7 linked regions of the Homo sapiens genome follow. The protein of the gene in region 1 interacts with the protein of each later gene in a pairwise test. Each region holds a gene or a part of one and is shown in the gene's direction. Other genes may lie near its edges.

The links.
Region 2: the proteins of SNCA (region 1) and COPS3 interact in binary tests that used the Homo sapiens proteins (3 or more experiments, as listed by UniProt).
Region 3: the proteins of SNCA (region 1) and ZNF57 interact in binary tests that used the Homo sapiens proteins (3 or more experiments, as listed by UniProt).
Region 4: the proteins of SNCA (region 1) and SDCBP interact in binary tests that used the Homo sapiens proteins (3 or more experiments, as listed by UniProt).
Region 5: the proteins of SNCA (region 1) and CALM3 interact in binary tests that used the Homo sapiens proteins (3 or more experiments, as listed by UniProt).
Region 6: the proteins of SNCA (region 1) and BRK1 interact in binary tests that used the Homo sapiens proteins (3 or more experiments, as listed by UniProt).
Region 7: the proteins of SNCA (region 1) and CENPV interact in binary tests that used the Homo sapiens proteins (3 or more experiments, as listed by UniProt).

Annotation. Positions count from the first base shown.
Region 1 is NC_000004.12:89,729,162-89,732,661, reverse strand, and holds part of SNCA (alpha-synuclein), read left to right. Parts: intron 1-3,384; coding exon 3,385-3,468; intron 3,469-3,500. UniProt on the Homo sapiens protein: Neuronal protein that plays several roles in synaptic activity such as regulation of synaptic vesicle trafficking and subsequent neurotransmitter release.
Region 2 is NC_000017.11:17,267,747-17,271,246, reverse strand, and holds part of COPS3 (COP9 signalosome complex subunit 3), read left to right. Parts: intron 1-238; coding exon 239-351; intron 352-439; coding exon 440-489; intron 490-3,201; exon of another isoform or gene 3,202-3,269; coding exon 3,270-3,362; intron 3,363-3,500. UniProt on the Homo sapiens protein: Component of the COP9 signalosome complex (CSN), a complex involved in various cellular and developmental processes.
Region 3 is NC_000019.10:2,910,928-2,914,427, forward strand, and holds part of ZNF57 (zinc finger protein 57), read left to right. Parts: intron 1-3,500. UniProt on the Homo sapiens protein: May be involved in transcriptional regulation.
Region 4 is NC_000008.11:58,577,261-58,580,309, forward strand, and holds part of SDCBP (syntenin-1), read left to right. Parts: intron 1-772; coding exon 773-948; intron 949-2,362; coding exon 2,363-2,534; intron 2,535-3,049. UniProt on the Homo sapiens protein: Multifunctional adapter protein involved in diverse array of functions including trafficking of transmembrane proteins, neuro and immunomodulation, exosome biogenesis, and tumorigenesis.
Region 5 is NC_000019.10:46,607,806-46,611,282, forward strand, and holds the end of CALM3 (calmodulin-3), read left to right. Parts: intron 1-18; exon of another isoform or gene 19-391; coding exon 392-535; exon of another isoform or gene 536-676; coding exon 677-783; exon of another isoform or gene 784-1,040; coding exon 1,041-1,176; exon of another isoform or gene 1,177-1,200; intron 1,201-1,292; exon of another isoform or gene 1,293-1,319; coding exon 1,320-1,348; 3' UTR 1,349-2,977; downstream 2,978-3,477. UniProt on the Homo sapiens protein: Calmodulin acts as part of a calcium signal transduction pathway by mediating the control of a large number of enzymes, ion channels, aquaporins and other proteins through calcium-binding. Calcium-binding is required for the activation of calmodulin.
Region 6 is NC_000003.12:10,122,175-10,125,674, forward strand, and holds part of BRK1 (protein BRICK1), read left to right. Parts: intron 1-3,451; coding exon 3,452-3,500. UniProt on the Homo sapiens protein: Involved in regulation of actin and microtubule organization. Part of a WAVE complex that activates the Arp2/3 complex. As component of the WAVE1 complex, required for BDNF-NTRK2 endocytic trafficking and signaling from early endosomes.
Region 7 is NC_000017.11:16,350,670-16,354,905, reverse strand, and holds the start of CENPV (centromere protein V), read left to right. Parts: upstream 1-1,436; 5' UTR 1,437-1,469; coding exon 1,470-1,879; intron 1,880-4,236. UniProt on the Homo sapiens protein: Required for distribution of pericentromeric heterochromatin in interphase nuclei and for centromere formation and organization, chromosome alignment and cytokinesis.

The DNA of each region.
Region 1 (3,500 bases):
AACTGCAATATATCATCACACCTAAAGAAATAAACAATAATTCTTAAATATCAAGTCAGTGTTCAAATTTCCCCAACTACCTCATATGTGTTTTCCATTTGCTTATGTAGGGTTCCCAATGAGAATGAAATAAAGTTCTTAGGTTGCAATTGGCTAATGCTCTCTCACTTCTACTTTAAGCGGCAGGTTCCCACTAACTTCTTTTTAGTTGCAATTTACTTATTGAAATTAGACGTATTCTTTGTCTTGTGTAGTTTCTCACAGTGCAAAATTTGCTGATTGTAGCCACTGTTGTAAGCAATGAACATGTTTTTCACCACCTTATATTTGCTGTAAGTTGTCAGTGATAGTTAAATGTTAATCAAATTCAAATTCGGATCACGTAGGGCTTTTCTTTTTTTGTTTTCTTTTTCTATTTATATATTTATTTATTTATTTTGAGACGGAGTCTCACTCCGTCACCAGGCTGGAGTGCAATGGTGTGATCTGGGCTCACTGCAATCTCCACCTCCCGGGTTCAAGTGATTCCCCTGGCTCAGTCTCCCGAGTAGCTGGGACTATAGGAGAACCACCACGCCCGGCTAACTTTTTGTATTTTAGTAGAGATGGGGTTTCACCATGTTGGCCAGGATGCTATAGATCTCCTGACCTCACCGATCATGTAGGACTTCAATTGTCGAACAAACGAACCTTTAATAGCAGTTACACCATTAGGATGACCTGATCCAACATCGAGGTCGTAAACCCTATTGTCGATTTGGACTCTAGAATAGGATTGTGCTGTCATCCCTAGTGTAGCTTGTTCCCACTTGATGAAGTTATTGGATCAGTGAACAATAGCCCACTTAAACTAGTACAGTCTTAGTTTAAGATGGTGATGTGTATGTACTTCCATCAGAGGGCACATAATACAGTAAATCCTCACTTAACTTCATCAATAGTTTCTGGAAACTGTGACTTGAAGCAAAACAACATATAACAAAACCAGTTTTACCATTGGCTAATTGATATAAGCAAGAATTAAGTCCTATGGCAAATTTCTGGACACAAAAACACCATCAAACTCCTAAATAAAGATAAATCACTTCTGACATTAAACATTGAAATTAATGTGAGCTATATATACGTTTAAGAAAGATTAATACAAACAAGTCAAATAACTTACCTAATTATTTCGGTGGAGGCCGCAGGTGGTTGGAGCCTATCCTGGCAGCTCAGGGAGCAATATGGGAACCCACCCCGGACAGGACGCTGTTCCATTACTGCAGGGTGCTCTTGTACACACCCACTCACCCAGGCTGGAACCATGCAGACACACACACTCACCTAACCTACACATCTGTGTACATCCTTCAAAGTTCAGCCAAATAACATATAAACAAATCCAGTAATATCCATCAGTCTTAGTTCCGTCATAACAACTCCTTTTTGATCATCAAACAACAAACAGGGTAGGTCTGCCATATTTACTTGTCTGGTCCATATCAAAATTTTCTAACAAATTATATTAGAAAATCAAATCTCTGTCAGTTTCAAAATCATGGAAAAAAATTTGCCTTATTTCCCTTATACTTGGATATCCTAACAGTAATCTAAATATTAATGAGAAAGTTAATGATGTCGTTTCCTTCTCCCTGTTGTAAAGAAGGTTTTGCTGTCCCGTTTGATCACTAAGACTAATTGACACTCAGAAAAAGCATAGGAAACTTCTCAGCATCACAAAAGCTCTGTCATCTAGAGAAGCTAGGACTTGAGCTCAAGTCCTGTGACATGGAAGGCCTTGTGCCTAGCCATCCTGCAGCAGAGGCGTATCTACCAAGAAGTGAAACACTACGAAAACAGTATGTTTACTCCACATTTTAAAGTGAGGTAGTTTGGGGTGGTTCATATTTTATTTAATTTATATATTATTTGGATTTTTTTTAGTTTATAAAAAGGGCATTGGCAAGGGCAGAATGATCTGTAAGCTTCTCTGCCCACCTACCATAAGCATGATCTTTAGTGTGACCTTTTCTTACTGTTAGCCATTTTCTTATACTTCTGCGTCCCTGTCAGTCACTTCCATGTGAAGACATGGGGAAGCTTTTTTACATCAGACATGTTGTTGAAAATCAGCCGCGTTGGCTGAGGGATTATTTGATCTCTTTCTCCAAGTCCCTTTAGGCTCACATTGCCTCTCTGTTCTTTGAATTTTCACTTACCTTTATCTTCTTATAATTACTTTGCTGAAATAAATGCAAAGCAACAAAAGGTATTTAGTGAAGAATACCAACAAAGCCATGACCATTTCAGGCTGAGTTTTGTAGTATTCTTTGTCTAGGAAGAGATACCTAGAAAAATTTTCTGACCATGTATTTGATTATTTTCCTTCAATATGTATAGTCTCAGTCTTCAAATTTCAGAAAAGAATTTGTTTCTTCATTGTCATTTAAAATTAATGTGTTAAATATGTATGCTTTTACATTATAAGTGGTTATAAAAGTTAAACACTTAGAAAAAAAGTCAAAATAACATACATACTATCCAACAAAATAACTTTCATATTTTATTGTGTTTTCTTCCAAACTTTTTACCTTTGCGTCTGAATTCTGTGTAGGTTGTATCTATAATATAGACAACACTTTATAGCCTGCTAAATATTATACCATAAATAGGTAGTTGTTACATAATTCTCAGGTAATAGTAATACAGGTCTTTATCATAATCTACTGAGTAGTTGAATGATAATTTTTTTTAAGACAAGGTCTCCCTCTGTCACCCAGGCTAGAATGCAGTGGCATGCACATGGCTCACTGTAGCCTCTACCTCCCAGGCTCAAGTGATCCTCCTGCCTCAGCCTCCCAAGTGGCTGGGACTGTAGGCATGTGCCACCATGCCCAGCTATTTATTTGTATTTTTAGTAGAGATGGGGTTTCATTGTAACAGCCCAGGCTGGTCTTGAACTCCTGGACTCAAATGATCCACCTGCCTCAGCCTCCCAAAGTGCTGAAATCACAGGAGTGAACCACTGCACCCAGCAATAATTTTTTAACTCTTCATTATTCATTGAACATTTAGTTAACAATTCTAAAAATTTTGTTTCCTGCTGTCATTGATCTTGTGAAAAATATCTTTGGACTATAGCTGTGGATTATTTCCTAAATAGTAAATTACTTGAGCAAAAAGTTTACATACTTTGAGGGTTGATAACCCATGTTGCCGCAATGTTTCCCCGGAGGCATTGTGGAGTTTAGAATGCCAGTAGTAATATTAAGGTGTGCCATTTTCAAGATCCGTGGCCAACATCCCTATATGTAAGATTTTTCCAAAACATGGTTCTGATTTTTAAAAGTGAAAAATGCTACTTCATCATGTTCTTTTTGTGCTTCTTACTTTAAATATTAGAATGAAGAAGGAGCCCCACAGGAAGGAATTCTGGAAGATATGCCTGTGGATCCTGACAATGAGGCTTATGAAATGCCTTCTGAGGTAGGAGTCCAAGCTGAATCTTTCTAACAAGA
Region 2 (3,500 bases), on another chromosome or scaffold:
TGTTGCTCAGACTGGTCTCAAACTCCTGGCCTTAAGCAGTCCTCCTGCCTCAGCCTCCCAAAGTGCTTGGATTACGGGCATGAGCCACTGTCCTGGCCTAGTTCTTAATTCTAAAAAATACTGTTGCTCATTTAATTTTACAGAGTATTGGAGGCAGGATGGATTTCTTGCATACATTGTTTCTGTATTTTATCCCATGAACTATCAGGGTAATTTGATTCTTTTCTCCTTATTCTAGGTTTGTGAAGTTTTCTATGCCCAGTGTTCCTGACTTCGAAACGCTATTCTCACAGGTTCAGCTCTTCATCAGCACTTGTAATGGGGAGCACATTCGATATGCAACAGACACTTGTAAGCTAAATAACATTTTATTCTCCATTGAAAATATTTTGCCCTTGTGGTTATATTTATATTTTGAATATTTTGTTATTGTATCTAGTTGCTGGGCTTTGCCATCAGCTAACAAATGCACTTGTGGAAAGAAAACAGGTAAGAAATACTATTCAAGTATTCCTAGTTTTGTTATAATATGTAACTAGCTTACACAATGAATTACTTTATCAAGATTCCAGTTAGTACTGAGCATCCACCACCTAGATATCTGTGGTCACTTGAGAGCACTCACAGCCATTGCTGTAAGCTCAGGCAGTCCCCGCATCCCCTGAATGAGGTGGAGGCACGGGGTGGTTTGGCACCTCAGGGAGGCTGCTGCTGGAACTACCAAGTAGTTGGAATTACCAAGCCAGTACCCTTTATGTTGTAATATGCTGGGTTTTGTCTGTTACATTTTTTCTTTTAACTTTTAATTAGGACATTATTTTAGCCTTACAAAAAGCTTCAAAAATAATATAAAAAATTCTCATACATTTTACCTAGATTTTCCAAATGTTAACATTTTACCGCACTTATTCTTTTTTTTTTCTCTTCCTCTTTTATTCTGAGCCATTGTAGAGTAAGTTGCACATATGCTATTGCTGTTCTTTATCCCTAAATACTTCAGTGGGTAAAGCCTAAAAATTAGGACATTCTGTTACATAGTATAGTGTAATGGTCAGCATCCAGAAATGAACTCTTACTGTTTTTTTTTTTGGAGACAGAGTCTCGCTCTGATGCCTAGGCTGGAGTGCAGTGGCGCCATCTCTGGTCACTGCAACCTCCACCTCCCAGGTTCAAGCAATTCTTCTGCCTCAGCCTCCTGAGTAGCTGGGGACTACAGGTGCATGCTGCCACGCCCAGCTAATTTTTTGTATTTTAGTAGAGACGGGGTTTCACCATGTTGCCAGGCTGGTCTCGAACTCCTGAGCTCAGGCAATCCTCCCGCCTTGGCCTCCCAAAGTGCCAGGATTACAGGCGTGAGCCACCACGCCCGGCCCAGAAATGAACGTTAATATAATGCATCAACAAATTGACAGACCCCATTTAGATTTTCCCCCAGTGAAAAGGACTGTCTTTTGCTATAAAAGGACATTAGCTGTTTGGACAGTGTACTATATATTATATAGCAAAAGAAAACCGTGGACCATGGATTGCATTAGACTGCTTTGTTTCTTTAGTGTCCCTTAATCTGAACAGTTATTTCATTCTTTATCTTTTATAATACATAATTTATAATGTGGATTTTTAAAAAATTTATTTAGTTATTTATTTTTTTGAAATGGAGTCTCATTCTGTTGCCTAGGCTGGAGTGCAGTGGTGTGATCTCAGCTCACTGCAACCTCCACCTTCCAGCTTCAGGCGATTCTCGTGCCTCAGCCTCCTGAGTAGCTGGGACTACAGGCGCATGTCACCTTTCCCAGCTGATTTTTGTTTTGTTTTGTTTTTTGAGACAGAGTCTCGCTCTGTCACCCAGGCTGGAGTGCAATGGCGCAATCTCGGCTCACTGCAACTTCCGCCTCCTGGGTTCAAGCAGTTCTTCTGCCTCAGCCTCCCAAGTAGCTGGGATTACAGGTGCCTGACACCATGCCCGGCTAATTTTTGTATTTTTAGTAGAGACAGGGTTTCACCATGTTTGCCAGGCTGGTGTCAAACTCCTGACCACAGGCGATCCGCCTGCCTCGGCCTCCCAGTGATTTTTGTATTTTTAATAGAGGTGAGGTTTTGCCATGTTGGCCAGGCTAGCCTCTAGAACTCCTGACCTCTGGTGATCCGCCTGCTTCAGCCTCCCAAAGGGCTGAGATTACAGGTGTGAGCCACTTCACCCAGCCAGGTGTTTCTTTTTAATTTGAAAGTAAATTTAAGATTAGTGGTTTGAAAGAGGCTGAAAATAGAACCAGTTGTTATTTTGTAGTACTAAGTAACCATGTTTGAAAGAGATGGTTAAGAAAAATCATGAGTTTTTGAAAAAGCTGTAAGTTATTGAGCTATTTTTAGTCTCTTCACATATATATATATATATTTTTGTTGTTGTTGTTGTTGTTGTTGTTTTTTTGAGATGGGGTCTTGCTCTGTTGCCCAGGCTGGAGTGCAGTGGCGCGATCTCAGCTCACTGCAACCTCCGCCTCCCGGGTTCAAGCGATTCTCCTGCCTCAGCCTCCTGAGTAGCTGGGACCACAGGCACATCCCACCATGCCCGGCTAATTTTTGTATTTTTAGTAGACATGGGGTTTTGCCATGTTGGCCAGGATAATCTTGATCTCCTGACCTCATGATCCACCCATCTTGGCCTCCCAAAATGCTGGGATTACAGGTGTGAGCCACCGTGCCCAGCAATTTTGGAAGAGACTATATTTTAGTCTGCCAAAAACTGATTATGCCTTACTTGACACTTGGTCTTCTTATTTATAATCAGGGCAGGAAACAGTCCTTTTGAAATCTATGGTGTTAGTTTTGGTAGTAATTTACTACCAGGTAAGGGGTAGACTGCCCTATGGGAAAATGCCAACACCCTTAGCCACAAGTAATTTTCCTAAGCATAGGCTGTTGTCTCTTGTATAATAAGTGATTTGGAAAGTTTTCATTTGTTTAGATGTTAATATAATAAACTGTTGAGAAAGTAATACTGTTTTTGATTATTGATCTTCATTGTAAAAATAAAAGCTTTTTATGATTTAAAAAATGGTGCTGAGTTATCTAAAAATTCCAAGAAACAGCTTAAGAAAAGTTTTCTGACTTAAATGGGACAGAAATTTCCTGAAAGAGTATGGAAACCTCATATTGCTATTTAAAGGAACCTATCAATTAGTGTTATTTTTTATTTATAAGTGACAACATAAGATCCAATGTGCTGCCATCTTTGAGAACTTATCTGAAAGAGATGTCATTTCTGACAGCCCCTGCGAGGAATTGGCATCCTTAAGCAAGCCATAGACAAGATGCAGATGAATACAAACCAGCTGACCTCAATACATGCTGATCTCTGCCAGGTAAGCAACCAAAGTGTGTGATTCACACCAAGTCAGAGGTGTAGGTTGTTTATGGGCTTGCTCAACATTGGGTTTGATAAACACAGGCAAGTTGGCGATATTGTGATGTGTTATAGAAGTTGGAATATGTAGGTACAT
Region 3 (3,500 bases), on another chromosome or scaffold:
GTTGTTCCTTATTTTGTCTTCCACTCTTTTTCTGCCTTTTTTGGTTTTGATTGCATGTTTTGTGTGATTCCATTTTTTCTCCTTTCTTAGCAAGTCAGGTATGCTTCTCTTTCCTTTTTTTAGTGATAGCCCTAGAGATATTTATTTATTTATTTGGCAGGGTCTTGCTCTATCAGCCAGGTTGGAGTGCAGTGGTACAATCATGGCTCACTGCAGCCTTAATCTCCTGGGCTCAAGCCATCCTGTTACCTCAGCTTCCCAAGTAGCTAGGACCACAGGGTATATGCCTCCAAGCCCAGCTTATTTTTAAAAACTTTTTGTGGCCGGGCACGGTGGCTCATGCCTGTAATCCCAGCACTCTGGGAGGCCGAGGTGGGTGGATCACCTGAGGTCAGGAGTTTGAGACCAGCCTGGCCAACATGGTGAAACCCTGTCTCTACAAAAATACCAAAAAAATTAGCTGGGCATGATGGCGGGTGCCTGTAATCCCAGCTGCTCGGGAGGCTGATGCGGGAGAATCTCCTGAACCCGAGAGGCAGAGGTTGCAGTGAACTGAGATTGTGTCATCGCACTCCAGCCTGGGCGACAGAGGGAGAGTCTGTCTCAAAAACAAAAAAAAACGACAACAAAAAAAACTTTGTAAAGACAGGGTGTCACTATGTTGCCCAGACTGGTCTTGAACTCCTGGCCTCAAGCAATCCTCCCGCCCCAGCCTCCCAAAATGCTGGCATTTCAGGCATGAGCCACCGCACCCAACCTAGAAGTTTTCATTACATGTCTTCAGGCTCAGAGTCTTTCCTCAGCCACACCCAGTCTACTCATGTGTCCATTAAAGTCATTCTCCATTTCTGTTACAGTGCTTTTCAAATCTCTCCCATGGCTTTTTCATTCTTAGGATTTCCACTTCTCAGCCTGTATTGCCTGTTTTTGCATGTTGTCTACTTTTTCCATTAGAGCACTTCACCTGTTAATCATACTTGTTTTAAATTCCCAGTCTGATAATTCCAATGTCCCTGCCATATATGAGGGGTTCTGCTTTATCTCTTCAAGCTCTGTCTTTTGCCTTTTAGTATGCCTTGTCATTTCTTTCTGGAAAGCCAGACGCAATGTACTGGGTGAAAGGCACTGAAGTAAATAGACCTTTAGTAACCCAGTGGTGAGATGTGGGCAGAGGGCAAGGATTCCCTGATCCTTTGATGACGTCTCAGTCTATTCTTGAGCCTGTGCCCCGCGACACTGAACTTCACAAGTGCTTCTCAGTTCTTCCTTCTCCTCTCACTTGGCGGGACAAGATGAATAGAGGAAGATGATGGGGGATACATCTCTTTCCACAGGTAATTTAGACACTGATGAAACCCCAACAGGTGAGGCTCTGATCAAATAGTTTTAAGGGAAAGGCCCGGTGAGAAAGAGCAGAAATATCTAGCCTATTTCAAAATCATTATTCTTCTCCTCTACAAGACTGGGCCCCCTGAGATTGCTAACTCAGACTTGGGCCCGCTGTGCCCCCAGCAATTCATCAGTTACAGCTCAGGGTTTCCCATCTAAGTAACGGTTCCCACAGAGGCTTCTGTTCATGGTTGCGTGTTCTGGTAAGTTATGACTCTCTGTATCCGCCTCTCTCTTCAGTTTGAGGGGGCAGAGCTTGCCTTGTGACATCAGTTCTCTGAAGGATGGAAGAAGAGCTTGTTGAGGTTTCAGTTTGTTCAGCTTTTTGTTACAAGGGAATAATAACTTCCAAGCTCCTTACATGCTGGACCAAAAACTAGAAGTCATTTAACTTTTAAAAAGAACTGCCACACTGTTTTCTTAATTGGTTGTACCATTTTACATTCCCACCAGCAATGTGTGAAGATTCCTGTTTCTCCATATCCTTGCCAAAACTTATTTTCTTTTTTAGTTTTTTATTTTACCCATCCTAGTGGGTGAGAAGTGGTATCTCCTTTTTGTTTTGATTTGCATTTCTTTGATGACTAATTACTGACAATGTTTATTTTTCTTGGAGAAATGTCTATTTACATCCTTTCCCCACTTTTTTGTTGTTGAGACTGAGTCTTGCCCTGTCACCCAGGCTGGAGTGCAATGGTGCGATCTCGGCTCACTGCAACCTCTGCCTCCTGGGTTCAAGCGATTCTCCCTCCTCAGCCTCCTGAGTAGCTGGGATTACAGGCATCCGCCACCACGCCCAGCTAATTTTTGTGTTTTTAGTAGAGACGGGGTTTCACCATATTGGCTCAGCTGGTCTCAAACTGCTGACCTTGTGATCCACCCACCTCTAAAGTGCTGAGATGACAGGTGTGAGCCACTGTGCCTGGCTGCTAAATCAGTTTTGTTTGATCTTTTCAAACAACTAGCTTTGGTTTCATTGATTTTTCTCTATTGTTTTACTGTTCTCTATTTCATTAATTTGCCTGTAATATTTATTATTTCCTTACTCCTAATTGCTTAGGTTTAGTTTTATTTTCCTATTGTGTCGAGGTGGACCACGTTAGGTTGTTGATTTGCAATCTTTAGGATAGGTATTTATAGCTATTAACTTCCTTTATATAAGTTTTGGTATATTATGTCTTTATTTTACATCCATCTCGAAGTATTTCCCTTTTGATTTCTCTTTGATCCATTAGTTATGGAGGAGTGTGTTAATATCCACATATTAGTGAATTTGCCAAATTTTCTGTATTAGTTTCAGATTTCATTTCTCATTCCATTGTGGTCAGAGAACATACTTATTTCTGGTTTTTTTTTTGGTGGGGGGAGACTAACTCTCACTCTGTCAGTGATGTGATCAGAGCTCACTGCAACTTCTGTCTTCAAGCAGTTCTCGTGCCTCACCCTCCCAAGTAGCTGGGAATCCACGTGTGTGCCACCATACCCAGCAAATTTTTGCATTTTTAGTAGAGACAGGGTCTCACTATGTTGCCCAGGCTGGTCTCGAACACCTGAGCTCCAGCGATCCATCTGCCTTGATCTCCCAAAATCCTGGGATTACAGGCGTGAGCCACCGCGCCCGGCCAATATTTTGTATTTCTATTGTTTAAAATGTGTTGAGGTTTCTTCTATGGCCTAGCAAAGGGTCTCTTTTACAGAACGTTCTTCTGCACTTGAGAAGAATGTGTGTTTTGCTGTTGTTGGGTTCAGTGTTCTGCAGATGTCTGCTATGTCTAAATGACTTATAGTGTTCAATTATTTTATTTCCTCGTATTTCACCTAGATGTTCTCTCATTAAAAAGTGGGGTAATTGATGATGCTGTGCTCAACTAAAAAAGAAAAAAGAATGGGTGTTTATGTTTCAACTTGTATTTTTAATTATCCATTTCTTTTATTTTTATTTATTTTTTTGAGTCTTGCTCTGTCACCTAGGCTAGAGTGACATTCTTGGCTGGAGAGCACAATCTTGGCTCACCGCAACCTCCACCTCCTGGGTTCAAGTGATTCTCCTGCCTCAGCCTCCTGAGTAGCTAGGATTACAGGCACGCACCACCATGCCCAGCAAAATTTGT
Region 4 (3,049 bases), on another chromosome or scaffold:
GCTTAGGATTGTAGAAGTAGATGCACTTATATTTTACCAGGCTTATTCTTCTTTTATACTTACCTATTTATATTTTGTTCAACTTCTGATTGAGATTTTACATAAGTAAAAATATCCATGTGAGTGTAGTTATTGGTTAACAGTATTTGAGTTTTCTGTATTTATTTCATTGTGTGTTCTTTATAAGCCTGTGCATGTGGATTTAATATGCCCATCTTTTTAGTCTAACAAATAAACTTTAATCTTACTTGATTATACACAATTTAGCAAATGGGTAAAGGAATGCTTCAGCTCAAAAGGTAGAATTATGACCTTAAACTGTCATTTATTAAGCTGTAAAAGAACTCATCAAACTTTCTAACATGTGACTCGCTTTTCCCCTAAATATGATTATGTACTGATAATTTGGTATTCTATCAGACTCAGACGCTTGCATTTATTAAAGTTGTCCTACTGTATTTTCCTTAGTTTTGTATTCCAAGTTGAAGGGGGGGATTGTGGTTGGTCAGGTGGGTCATGATTTGGTATAGAAATTGCCATTGAAATCTCACTTTTTTGCCTTATTCTTTGGAGTTGCTGTCTTGATAAATTTTTCAGTTTCTTTTGAGGTGATAACTTAATATACTCATATAGTTTTTCCTTTTTTTCTTTTTCTTTCTTTTTTGTCACTGGGGTAGAGTTTTCAACATAAACAGTTGTTTCCTAATTTTCCAGCGTTTAAAACCGTATCATAGTAGTGGTAAATGACAAAAATTATTTTCTTATTATCTAGGGTATATTTGTTCAGCTAGTCCAGGCTAATTCTCCAGCCTCATTGGTTGGTCTGAGATTTGGGGACCAAGTACTTCAGATCAATGGTGAAAACTGTGCAGGATGGAGCTCTGATAAAGCGCACAAGGTGCTCAAACAGGCTTTTGGAGAGAAGATTACCATGACCATTCGTGACAGGTAAGCTGTTACTAAACAGCTCAAATGAAAATTCAATACTAGTTTTCCATTTTTTTGGGCTTTCAGAGTTTGTGAGTATATTATTTTGTTGCAGAAAATGATCAAATGTTATTGATGAGCCTTATAGTCTTGCAGTTGTGTGGTGCAGATTTTTCTTACATTGTTTTTAAAGCATTCTGATACGATACCTTATTTCAGAGTTTATAGGACAAATCTCTCTAGAAAATAGAAAACGTATGTTGGAGAAGTAACTGAGTTGCAGGGCATCTCTGGGCTCACTTTCCAACTTACTGCTTAGATACATCCAGCCTAGGGTGTTCACACACAGTGGTCCCTCATTGTGAGGGTCAGAGCCCATGCAGACTTCCAAGTAGTATGGGAGTTCTGAAAACCGTATCAAGACTTTTGGGTAGTTATGAAGCAGTAGTTTTCAAGAACATGGAATATTCTATTTAGCAGCTCATTCATTTAGAACTTAAACATTTAGCACATGAAATAGGGGCCTCCATTTATTTTCTTGTCTACTCCATACCCAATTAAGGGTAGACGTATATTGCATTGTTACAGTAAGCTTTGAGTTTTTGTTCCTTCTCAGTGAAACTTCTGTTTTATCTTTGTGTTTCCAGTTTCTCATTCAGTTTAGGTATTTCGTAAATGTTTCAGATGAATGTCCTTTTTACTTTCTATCTAAGCAGAGTTTCAAAGAGTAAGTTGTACTAACAGGAAGAAATGCCTCTTCTGAATTTAATAATGTAAACACAAGTTGATCCTAAAACCCTTATGATAACATGATAACAGAGTTTATAGAGAATCAAGCAAATGTGACTGCTATAACAACTCTAGAGGGACAGCTGGATGCCTTTTAATAATAGCTGCATGCCTCCCTTTCCAAAGGGGCTTGAGGAACTTAAGTCTTACTGCTGCTCTAGTTTTTCTTTTCAAAGATAGCAATGTATAAAATTTTCAAAATCAAGATGTGAGAAATATTTTAAAGGTTTTAAATAAAAGAAATAGTCCTAAAAATGATTTGGCTCTAGAAAATACCAAAAGTTAATAAAAAATAAAAATTATCTTTACCACTGTGATTTAGTTAAAAAGCCTATGTCATTCTTAATGCTGTAAAGTCTAATTATAAAAGAAAAACATATTGATAAAACCATATAAAGCAGTTGTCTTTTATACTTAAAGAAGGAAATGTTGATTAGTAAATCAGTCAAACCATAATGAATAAACTTAAAAAAAACTTTTACACAAAGATGTTCCGTGAATGTATAAAATCAGAGCCATAAGTTGCTCTTATTAGAAACAGTGTTTATTATAAAAGTATCCAATATGGCAACATTTATGCTATATGAAATCCATTAAAATGTTTAGCTTAGAATTAAGTTTTTAATTGAACCAATTATGTTTGTAGGCCCTTTGAACGGACGATTACCATGCATAAGGATAGCACTGGACATGTTGGTTTTATCTTTAAAAATGGAAAAATAACATCCATAGTGAAAGATAGCTCTGCAGCCAGAAATGGTCTTCTCACGGAACATAACATCTGTGAAATCAATGGACAGAATGTCATTGGATTGAAGGTAAGGAACAGACTTTGTGCCATGTTCTGCTGCAGTTTTAGAAAATGTCTGTCTTTTGACTGTATTTAGGTGGCGCTGTTTTCATATTGACTTAGGTGGGAGATGGGGAACGTGGGGCCTGAACTCTTGGTCTGGCCAGTCACCGGAATTATTTGGGCTGTCATCTAGAACTACAGTTCCTATAACAAGTGGGCTGGAATAAATGATCTCAGAAGTACCTCACACTAGAATTCTGTGGAAATATGGGCAACAAAGATTTAGAATATGAATAGTGGCCCAGCATTTCTCAATCCAGGAATATAAGGAAATGAATAATAGTTTTGGTTCATATTAATACTTTATTTTTATAGTTTTTCTCCTCCACAAATTCCTAAATAAGTCTGTCTTAAGGTCAAAAAGTTTTAAGCATGACCTCCTCATTTCATAGAATTTGATTTAGAATACACAGTTAATAAGAGGAGATGGTAATATTGTATATGGGGAAAATTATCTAATATTCAGAAAGGAAAAGTTTT
Region 5 (3,477 bases), on another chromosome or scaffold:
ACAAAGAATCCTTTCGGCTCTCATTCACTCCATGACTTTGGTTCATTTCATCATTTCAAGGGAGAAGTCAAAGCCAGGGACCAAACAGAAATGTAGAATCATCTAAGGACAGCTGTCAGACCATTTTCCCCACTGTCTTCACTGGCTGGCCAGAAAAATAGCTTCACCTAGCACAGTGTTGATGTTCAATAACTGTTGAATGAAGGTTGGAAGGGCTTTGCCCTGAGCACTGAGGAGAGAGAGCTGGTTGCGTGGGACTTGAAGTCTGTCTCAGTTTCTTTAGGTGGGACTGATGCCCTTGGCCTTCCTCCAGGGAAGGCATCCAGCATCCAGAGGTAAGGATTCTCCTGTGGACCTTGTGACCTCTGACTCCTCCCCCTTCTTCCCCCAGAGTTCAAGGAGGCCTTCTCCCTCTTTGACAAGGATGGAGATGGCACTATCACCACCAAGGAGTTGGGGACAGTGATGAGATCCCTGGGACAGAACCCCACTGAAGCAGAGCTGCAGGATATGATCAATGAGGTGGATGCAGATGGTGAGCCCCACAGAGCGCGTGGGCAGCCCTGCTCCTGGTCACCCCGAGTGACTGCAGGGAGCCTCTCTCAGGGTGATGGATGAGCCCGTGTCTCTCAGGGCCCAGGCCAAGAGCATTCTCCATCCTTTCCCCACCTTCCAGGGAACGGGACCATTGACTTCCCGGAGTTCCTGACCATGATGGCCAGAAAGATGAAGGACACAGACAGTGAGGAGGAGATCCGAGAGGCGTTCCGTGTCTTTGACAAGGTAAGCAGCCCTCTCCAGGGGCGGCTCTGAGACTGACGCCAGCCTTCAGGCAGACAGGCGGAACTGGAGCCACGGAGCTACCACTTCCAGGAGGTCCGGGTCCCGGTGCCAGCCTCATTGCCAACCTGCTCTGCCACCTCAGGCAGCCTCCCTCACTGTGCTCACTGCTGAGGGATGGTGATGACAGCCACCCCTCTCACTGCCTCTCTCCCCACCGGGAGAAGTGCCCAGTGAAAGGCTTTATCCCCAACCCCCAGGATGGGAATGGCTACATCAGCGCCGCAGAGCTGCGTCACGTAATGACGAACCTGGGGGAGAAGCTGACCGATGAGGAGGTGGATGAGATGATCAGGGAGGCTGACATCGATGGAGATGGCCAGGTCAATTATGAAGGTGAGTCAAGGCCAGGCTTGATCTCTGGAACAAGAAGAGAATCGCAGCTTCAGGAACAAGCCCCCAGATCCCTCTTGTTGGGGAGGGCCGCTCGCCACTTAGCCTGCCCGCCTGACCTCCTCTCTCTCTGCTTCACTCCACAGAGTTTGTACAGATGATGACTGCAAAGTGAAGGCCCCCCGGGCAGCTGGCGATGCCCGTTCTCTTGATCTCTCTCTTCTCGCGCGCGCACTCTCTCTTCAACACTCCCCTGCGTACCCCGGTTCTAGCAAACACCAATTGATTGACTGAGAATCTGATAAAGCAACAAAAGATTTGTCCCAAGCTGCATGATTGCTCTTTCTCCTTCTTCCCTGAGTCTCTCTCCATGCCCCTCATCTCTTCCTTTTGCCCTCGCCTCTTCCATCCATGTCTTCCAAGGCCTGATGCATTCATAAGTTGAAGCCCTCCCCAGATCCCCTTGGGGAGCCTCTGCCCTCCTCCAGCCCGGATGGCTCTCCTCCATTTTGGTTTGTTTCCTCTTGTTTGTCATCTTATTTTGGGTGCTGGGGTGGCTGCCAGCCCTGTCCCGGGACCTGCTGGGAGGGACAAGAGGCCCTCCCCCAGGCAGAAGAGCATGCCCTTTGCCGTTGCATGCAACCAGCCCTGTGATTCCACGTGCAGATCCCAGCAGCCTGTTGGGGCAGGGGTGCCAAGAGAGGCATTCCAGAAGGACTGAGGGGGCGTTGAGGAATTGTGGCGTTGACTGGATGTGGCCCAGGAGGGGGTCGAGGGGGCCAACTCACAGAAGGGGACTGACAGTGGGCAACACTCACATCCCACTGGCTGCTGTTCTGAAACCATCTGATTGGCTTTCTGAGGTTTGGCTGGGTGGGGACTGCTCATTTGGCCACTCTGCAAATTGGACTTGCCCGCGTTCCTGAAGCGCTCTCGAGCTGTTCTGTAAATACCTGGTGCTAACATCCCATGCCGCTCCCTCCTCACGATGCACCCACCGCCCTGAGGGCCCGTCCTAGGAATGGATGTGGGGATGGTCGCTTTGTAATGTGCTGGTTCTCTTTTTTTTTCTTTCCCCTCTATGGCCCTTAAGACTTTCATTTTGTTCAGAACCATGCTGGGCTAGCTAAAGGGTGGGGAGAGGGAAGATGGGCCCCACCACGCTCTCAAGAGAACGCACCTGCAATAAAACAGTCTTGTCGGCCAGCTGCCCAGGGGACGGCAGCTACAGCAGCCTCTGCGTCCTGGTCCGCCAGCACCTCCCGCTTCTCCGTGGTGACTTGGCGCCGCTTCCTCACATCTGTGCTCCGTGCCCTCTTCCCTGCCTCTTCCCTCGCCCACCTGCCTGCCCCCATACTCCCCCAGCGGAGAGCATGATCCGTGCCCTTGCTTCTGACTTTCGCCTCTGGGACAAGTAAGTCAATGTGGGCAGTTCAGTCGTCTGGGTTTTTTCCCCTTTTCTGTTCATTTCATCTGGCTCCCCCCACCACCTCCCCACCCCACCCCCCACCCCCTGCTTCCCCTCACTGCCCAGGTCGATCAAGTGGCTTTTCCTGGGACCTGCCCAGCTTTGAGAATCTCTTCTCATCCACCCTCTGGCACCCAGCCTCTGAGGGAAGGAGGGATGGGGCATAGTGGGAGACCCAGCCAAGAGCTGAGGGTAAGGGCAGGTAGGCGTGAGGCTGTGGACATTTTCGGAATGTTTTGGTTTTGTTTTTTTTAAACCGGGCAATATTGTGTTCAGTTCAAGCTGTGAAGAAAAATATATATCAATGTTTTCCAATAAAATACAGTGACTACCTGATTTGGCTCCTCTCCTCCTGTCTCAGTTTCTGGCCTGCCCCCCTCCAACACACATACACACCAACCCCAGCACTGACTCCTTTGGCCCAGAGGTGGAAGAGCCTCTCCTCAAAGCTGGCTCTGAAGCTGTGTCCAGTCAGTGCAGCCCAGTGGACGCCTCTGAACCACAGTTCTGATCCCAGCTAGATCGCAGGGTCATCAACGGCAGGGTCCTGTCCTAGAGATAGTCGCACAAATGGACTGAAAGGCGGGGACTGAGAAGGCTCCTCTGAGGCAGGCCCATCATGCCATGGGAGCACACAGAGAAGGGGTCAGCCCAGTCAGGTGGCAGGACTGAGCTGAGACCTACCTGAAAGATGGGCAGTCCCCTAGCCGGGTAGGGGAAGGACGGAAGGGCATTCCAGTTCGGGGGGACGACATGTATGGAAGCCCTGAGGCAAGAGAAGCCCAGACATCAAGGAACTGAAGGAAATCCAGCGAGACTGGGTGAGAGCCCCGAGC
Region 6 (3,500 bases), on another chromosome or scaffold:
GGCCTCCCAAAGTGCTGGAATTACAGGCATGAGCCACCGCGCCTGGCCACTTGTAACTTTCAATGGCTATTTTAATAGTCTCATTAATACGCTATATCAAACCATTCCAATCATGGGCATTTGGTTTTGTTGCTTTTTCACCATCTTAAATAGTAGTGATGCACATTCTTATTTGTAAAATCTTTATCCAAAGAGGGAAGTCATAACCAAAGACCAAGTACATGAATAACTTACAAATTAGAAATTCAGAGGCTGGCACGGTGCCTCACGCCTGTAATCCTAGGACTTTGAGAGGCCAAGGCAGGTGGATTGCTTGAGTTCAGGAGTTTGAGATCAGCCTGGGCAACAAAGTGAGACCCCCATATCTACCAAAACAAAAAACAAAAAAATTAGCCAGGCACAGTGGCATCCACCTACTGAGTAGTAATTGCAGCTACTCGGGAGGCTGAGGTGGAAGGATCACTTGAACCTAGGAGTTGGAGGGTGCAGTAAGCTATGATTGCAACACTGAACTCTAGCCTGGGTGACAGAGCAAGACCATGTCTCTTTTAAAAAAAAAAATTCATCCGTAAATGTTTAGATAAATACAGAAGAGGAAGAATTATTATGTCCATCTGGCAAGACCTCTCAGAGATAGAATTTGAACTTAGCCTTGAAGGAGATAGGCAGGCAAGATGAGTAAGATTTGGACATAATAAGATGAAAGTTGAGGCAAGATCAGGGTGTAGGAAGATTTGTCAAAATGGATGCTGAAGCGCTTTTGCAAAACAGCCAGGGAATAGATGAAAAGGAAACTTGTTAGCTAAGTGTTAAATCATTGCGTGGGAGAGTCTCAGCGAATATTTCAGACTTGAAAACTGAAGTTTATTGAGAGATGACTGAACAACAATGTTGGAGGAGAGAGTAGAAGATAATGACCATGCTAAGATACCTTTTCTCTCATATGTTGAGAATAGTTGGAAAAAGAATAGTTCCTGTTACAGAAGTTTGCAGAGAAAAAGTTGTTTTAAATTAAATCTGGTTTCATTTTGAATGAGATGGTAAAAGAAGATTGGAAAAGCTAGAGGAAGAAGAATAATTTTGGCTGTTTTCACAGATGGAATGTGGGCTTTATCGGGTATTTGATGCTCTCCAACTTTTCTCTAGTTCTGAAAGGCCTTTGCCTCTAGGAGCAACAGTAGTGACATGGCTTTAATGAGCTCAGAACTCTCACACCTTCCCTCCCCATAATTTCTGCTGCTTTCTTGGCCTCTACTTTCTTTCCTTTTTTTTTTTTTTTGAGACGGAGTCTCACTCTGTTTCCCAGGCTGGAGTGCAGTGGTGCAATCTCGGCTCACTGCTACCTCCATCTCCCGGGTTCAAGCAGTTCTCTGCCTCAGCCTCCCGAATAGCTGGAATTACAGGCGCCCGCCACCACACCCGGCTAATTTTTTGTATTTTTAATAGAGACGGGGTTTCATTGTGTTAGCCAGGATGGTCTCCATCTCCTGACCTCGTGATCCACTGCCTTGGCCTCACAAAGTGCTGGGATTACAGGCCTGAGCCACCGTGCCTGGCCTTTTTTTTTTTTTTTTTTTTTGAGATGGAGTCTCACTCTGTCACCCAGGCTGCAGTGCAGTGGTGCAATCCCAGCTCACTGCAACCTCCGCCTCCCAGGTTCAAGTGATTCTCCTGCCTCAGCCTCCCGAGTAGCTGGGACTAGAGGCACCCGCCACCACACCCAGCTAATTTTGTATTTTTAGTAGAGATGGGGTTTCACCATGTTAGCCAGGCTGGTCTCAAACTTCTGACCTCAGTTGATCTGCCCACCTTGGCTTCCCAAAGTGCTGGGATTACAGGCGTGAGCCATCACGCCCAGCCTCGTTTCTTTCCTGTTGAGATTATTTTCTTATTCTTGCCATGTCCCCTCTCTTGAAAGTCTTAGTTAGGCCATTAGTAAATGGCTGTACAGCCTTGGTGTATTCATTTGCTATTCCTGGCATAACATATTACCACACAGGCTGGGCACAGTGGCTCACACTTGTAATCTCAGCACTTTGGGAGGCCAAGGCGGGCGGATCACGAGGACAAGAGATTGAGACAATCCTGGCCAACATGGTGAAACCCCGTCTCTACTAAAAATACAAAAAAAAAAAATTAGCTGGGCATGGTGGCGCACACCTGTAGTCCCAGCTACCTAGGAGGCTGAGGCAGGAGAATCGCTTGAACCCGGGAGGCAGAGGTGGCAGTGAGCCAAGATTGCGTCACTGCACTCCAGCCTGGAAACAGAGTGAGACTCCATCTCAAAAAAAAAAACCAAAAAAACAAATTACCACACATTTTGTGGCTTAAACCACATACATTTATTATTTACCATGTGTAGGTCATAAATCAAACACTGGTCACTGGGCTAGCAATCTTCACACCTTGGCCAGCAGTCTTCACACCTTGGCCTTCTGAAGTATTAGGATTACAGGCATGAGTCACTGCTCCTGGCCTGGGCTCCAATCAGGGTTTCAGCAGGACTGCCTTCCTTTCTGGAGGCTCTAGGAGAGGGTCTAGTTCCTCGAATATTGGGTTGTTGGCAGAATTCAGTTTCTCGTGGTTGTAGGACTGAGATCTCTGTTTTGTTGCTGGCTGTGAGCTGAGAGTTGTTCCCAGCTTCTAAAGGTCACTTACATCCCTTGGTTCATGGCTCCCTTCTTCCACTTTCAAAGCCAACAATGGCAGATTGCATCCCCTTCACACTTGGAATCTCTTTTTCTTCTTCCATTTCATCTCTGACCCCCTTCCTATGCCTTTCTCACCTACATTTGTGGACTATGATTAGATTGGGCCCAAATGGACAATCCAAGACAAACTCTAGGATCTCAAGGTTCTTAACCTTAATCATACCTGCAAAGCCCTGTTTCCTCATGTATAATCCATATTCACAGGATCCAGGGATTAGAGAAAGGACTTTTTTTTGAGACAGAGTTTTGCTGTTTGACCCAGGCTGGAGTGAAGTGGCGAGATCTTGGCTCACTGCAACCTTTGCCCCCCCCGGTTCAAGTGATTTTCCTGCCTCAGCCTCTTAAGTAGCTGGGATTACAGGCATGTGCCATCATGCCTGGCTAATTTTTGTATTTTTAGTAAGAGACAGGGTTTCATGATGTTGGCCAGGCTGGTCCCGAACTCTTGACCTCAGGTGATCCACCCGCCTAGTCCTCCCAAAGTGCTAGGATTACAGGCATGAGCCACCGTGCCCTGCAGGAAAGGACGTTTTTGTGGGGCCGTTATTCTCTACTTGCAACACTTGATAGGAAGTTCAGCAGATCCACTCTAAGCAACTGTGCTATGAGTGGATCTTAGCACTGTATCCATTTCCATTTGTATTCTGTGTATTATTCCTCTTTTTCATTGTAGGTGTTGTGTGTGTCTGTGTCTGTGTTTGGAGTGACATTAATCCTGAACACCAGTCTCTTTTTCTCAGATATGTCTTGTCGTTCAAGACTTGCAACACTAAACGAGAAATTGACAGC
Region 7 (4,236 bases), on another chromosome or scaffold:
CCCAACACTTGGGGAGAACTAGGCGGGAGGATCGCTTGAGGCCAGGAGTTAGAGACCAGCCTGGGCAACATAGGGAAACCCGGTATCTACAAAACAACAATAGCAACAATTCGCTGGGGCGGGGGGGGGGGGGGGGGGGCGCCGCCTGTTGTTCCAGCTACTCAGCTACTCCAGAGGCCCAGGCGGCAGGATCGCTTGAGGCCAGGAGTTCTTGGCTACACTGAGCCGAGATCCCGCTACTGCACTCCAGTCTGTCAGATCCTGTATGGAAAAAAAAAAAAAAAGACAAAATAGTTAAACTATGCCTTTAATTCAATAAACTATTAAACTAACAATACCATGAAGAAAATCAGAATAAAGAAGAAAGATAGGCTGACGCAGGAGAATCGCTGGAACGGTGAGGCGGAGGTTGCGTGAACCGAGATCGCGCCACTGCACTCCAGCCTGGCGACAGAGTGAGACTCCAAAAAAGAAAAAAAAAAAAAAAAAAAAAAGAAAGATAGGCTGGGCCCGGTGGCTCAGGCCTGTAATCCCAGCGCTTTGGGAGGCCGAGGCGGATGGATCACCTGAGGTCGGGAGTATTCGGCACCAGCCTGACCAACATGGTGAAACCCCGTCTCTACTAAAAATACAAAATTAGCCGGGTGTGGTGGCGAATGCCTGTAATCCCAGCTACTCAGGAGGCTGAGGCAGGAGAATCGCTTGAACCTGGGAGGCGGAGGTTGCGGTGAGGCGAGATCGCGTCACTGCACTCCAGCCTGGGCAACAAGAGCGAAACTCGGTCTGAAAAAAGAAGAAGAAGGAGAAGGAGAAGAAGACTATCTGGGTTCCATCAACGATTCTCGTGCCTTTTGTCTTTAAACTTTGGTGCTGCCTTCATCAAAATCATACTAATGAAATTCGACGCGCGGGTCATTCATTTAATTAAAATGAAACCCCAAATCTGTTGACTATTGGTATCCTCATGACACTGTTCTATAATGTGACAGAAAAGACGAAGGTGAAGAACTATGGTTTCGGCCGCTGTTACACAGGAGGTAGCAGGTGGCAGGCCGTTTACACAAATTAGCTCGTTTTTGGAGACGAAGTTACCCCAGGCTGCCCGCTCGGATGAGCCTGCGAATTCAGGCCCAACCCAGGCCCCTCCAGGTCGGGAAGGTACGAAGAGCCCGCTGGATTCACACAGGGCAGGGGCGCCTTCGCAGGTGCGAGTGGATTCTGGGTATCGCGAGCGTAGGCCCAGGCGCAGCCCCTCTGCCTGCGGGACTGAACAGGCAGGTGCGTCCCAGCGGCCGGGCGGGCCGGGTCTCCCTCCTGCGGGCAGGCGCCGCGCTGCGGGGCGCGGCTGGCGGAGCGGGGCAGCCGGGCGCAGCGCCCCCTGGGCCTGAAGACTGGCGGGCGGCGGGGGCGCGCGCAGGCCGGCGGGGGCGCGCCGCGCTGCGAGGCCTGCGCGCCAGGCTGCGGGAGCCATGCGGCGATCGAGGAGCTCTGCGGCCGCCAAGCTGCGCGGGCAGAAGCGGTCCGGGGCCTCCGCGGCCCCCGCGGCCTCCGCGGCCGCTGCCTTGGCACCCAGCGCCACCCGCACACGGCGCTCCGCTAGCCAGGCCGGGAGCAAGAGCCAGGCGGTGGAGAAGCCGCCGTCGGAGAAGCCGCGGCTGAGGCGCTCGTCGCCGCGGGCCCAGGAGGAGGGCCCGGGGGAGCCGCCGCCGCCTGAGCTGGCGTTGCTCCCGCCACCGCCGCCGCCGCCGCCGACTCCCGCGACCCCGACGTCCTCGGCGTCCAACCTGGACCTGGGCGAGCAGCGGGAGCGCTGGGAGACGTTCCAGAAGCGGCAGAAGCTTACCTCCGAGGGTGCCGCCAAGCTCCTGCTAGACACCTTGTGAGTGCGGCGGGCCGGGGGGCGCGGGAGCCGTTGCCACGCGGACCCCCTCGGCAGGAGTCGGGCTCGCAGCCCGCGTGCAGGCCTTGGGCGCCTTTCAGCTCTGAGCCTTCCACGTTACGGAGCCGACGCGGCTCCCCCGTTAGCACTGGGGTTATTCCTTAATTCTAAGGGCGGCGGGGCGGGGCGGTGCTTCTAGGGCTGTGTGGCCTGGGAATGGAAAGGGGGCTTCGTCCGGAGCTTGAGGGCGCGCGCAGCCGTCTTGGGACACAAAGAGTCTTTCCCGGCCATAAGCATCGTGCTCGGGGACGTTGTCTCTTGCTGGCGCGCAAAGGGTGTGGGGGCCTTTCTTAGTGAAAAGAACATAAATCCCACGGCTTTCTCTTACCCGAATCCCCTTTTTTTTTGTGTTTGCACACGTGTTTTTGAGGGTGGGTGGAAGGGAAAGGTAGAAGCGTTGAAGGAAGCATGAATAGTTTTGAACTCACTGGGAAGCAAAATCCCGTCATTGTTCCAGGCACTGCCAGGGAGGGAGCAGGGGGCGGAGGTTATTGATCCGGGAGAGAAGCGCGCGCGAAGAGATGCTCCGGCCTCGCGCGGCGGCGGGGATACCTACGTAGGGAGGCTTTTATGTGCTCAGCCAGCTAATGCTCCCTGCCGCTCGCCCTCCTGGCTGCTCCGCAGTCTTTTAGATGGCCCGAGGAGCATCTCGAGTGTCCGCGATTTGGGAAAGAGCTTTTAACTGGGCTGTTAAAGGGCTGCCTTCTTTTCTCCAAATGCGATCTGGATTCCTGCCTCGGGGAACAGTTGTGCTACAGAGAGATATTTTAACGCCCTGATATTATATTTCAGTGTCAATTTTACGAATTAAAAAGAACAATCAAAACACTAGGGGGAAAAAACCGACAAGAATAACCTAGCAATTGCATAACCTGAGAATTACTTCTTTTCTTGAACATGTTCCTTTGAGCTTCTTGCGGAAGAAATTCTCTTAGGATGAGTCGTCCCCGACAGAAGATACATATTTGGTTTTCTGTGTGCTTCACTTTTTGGTTTTTCATCTTGGACTGCACACTGAATTTTTAAAAAACGTTCATCCATCAAACATTTGAGCACCTATAGGGTGACGGCTGCCTCTGGGCAGAAGGAATACGAAGATCCTTAGGAATGTAAAACTCATGGTGTCTTCAAGGCATACAGAAAAAAAGAAGAATGTAAAACTCAAATTTGAGATAAATTTTTATTTTAAGACAAACTGATAAATGGTCAAGAAAAAGTTTTAAAATATTGACATAAAAAAGCTGTTTTTCTCCCACTAGATTGCCATGACTTTGTACTTATAAAGTCTACTAAATTATATTCAAAAAGTGTGTATAACTGTACCATTTTCGTTAAAATATTGTGTAGAAAAAAGTTTGGGGGAATATATAACAAATAATTAACTGTAGATCCCTCTGGGTGTAAAGATTACAGGAGGCTTTCACTTTGAGCACTCTCAAATAGTGTGAAGTTTGGAGTTTTTACAATAAGCATTATGTGTGCAGAAAAAATTAAAATACATAAACGTAAAGAAACATGAAAAAATGATCAGTCTTAATCATGCAAATTAAAACTGCAGTGAGCTATTTTTCCTATAATTATTGCCTGAGACTGTACAGTGAAATGTTTTCTCATTTATTTATCGGGTAAGGGTGTTCAATCCTTTTGGAAAGCGATTTTAAGACATTTATCAGATCTTAATGTTCATTTCTGAGTTTGGCTTATATATAAGCTTTAAAGGGTTAAAATTGTATGTAGGCTGGGTGAGGTGGCTCATGCCTGTAATCCCAGCACTTTGGGAGGCCGAGGCGGGTGGATCACCTGAGGTGGGGAGTTTGAGACTGCCTGACCAACATGGAGAAACCCCGTCTCTACTAAAAATACAAAATTAGCTGGGTGTGGTGGTGGGCGCCTGTAATCCCAGCTACTCGGGAGGCTGAGGCAGGAGAATCATTTGAACCCTGGAGGTGGAGGTTGCGGTGGGCTGAAATCGCGTCACTGCACTCCAGCCTGGGCAACAAGAATGAAACTCCCTCTCAAAAAAAAAAAATTCTATGTAATGTGTATTACAACTATGTAAAACGCATGTGTATGAAGAATACTGGAAAGAAATAGAGCAAAAATATAAGAGCCTTTATTAAGTTTCTCAAAAGGCTCTTCTGGACCTCTGGACTTGATTGAGTACACAGTCTTATTTTTCATAGCAGCCTGTACCTCCTTTATCACAATCATAATTAATTATTATTTGAGTAAATTGTTAAGGTCGGTAAGGGTAGCAATCGTGTCTGCTGTATCTTGTTTAGTGTTCTCTCCTTCGT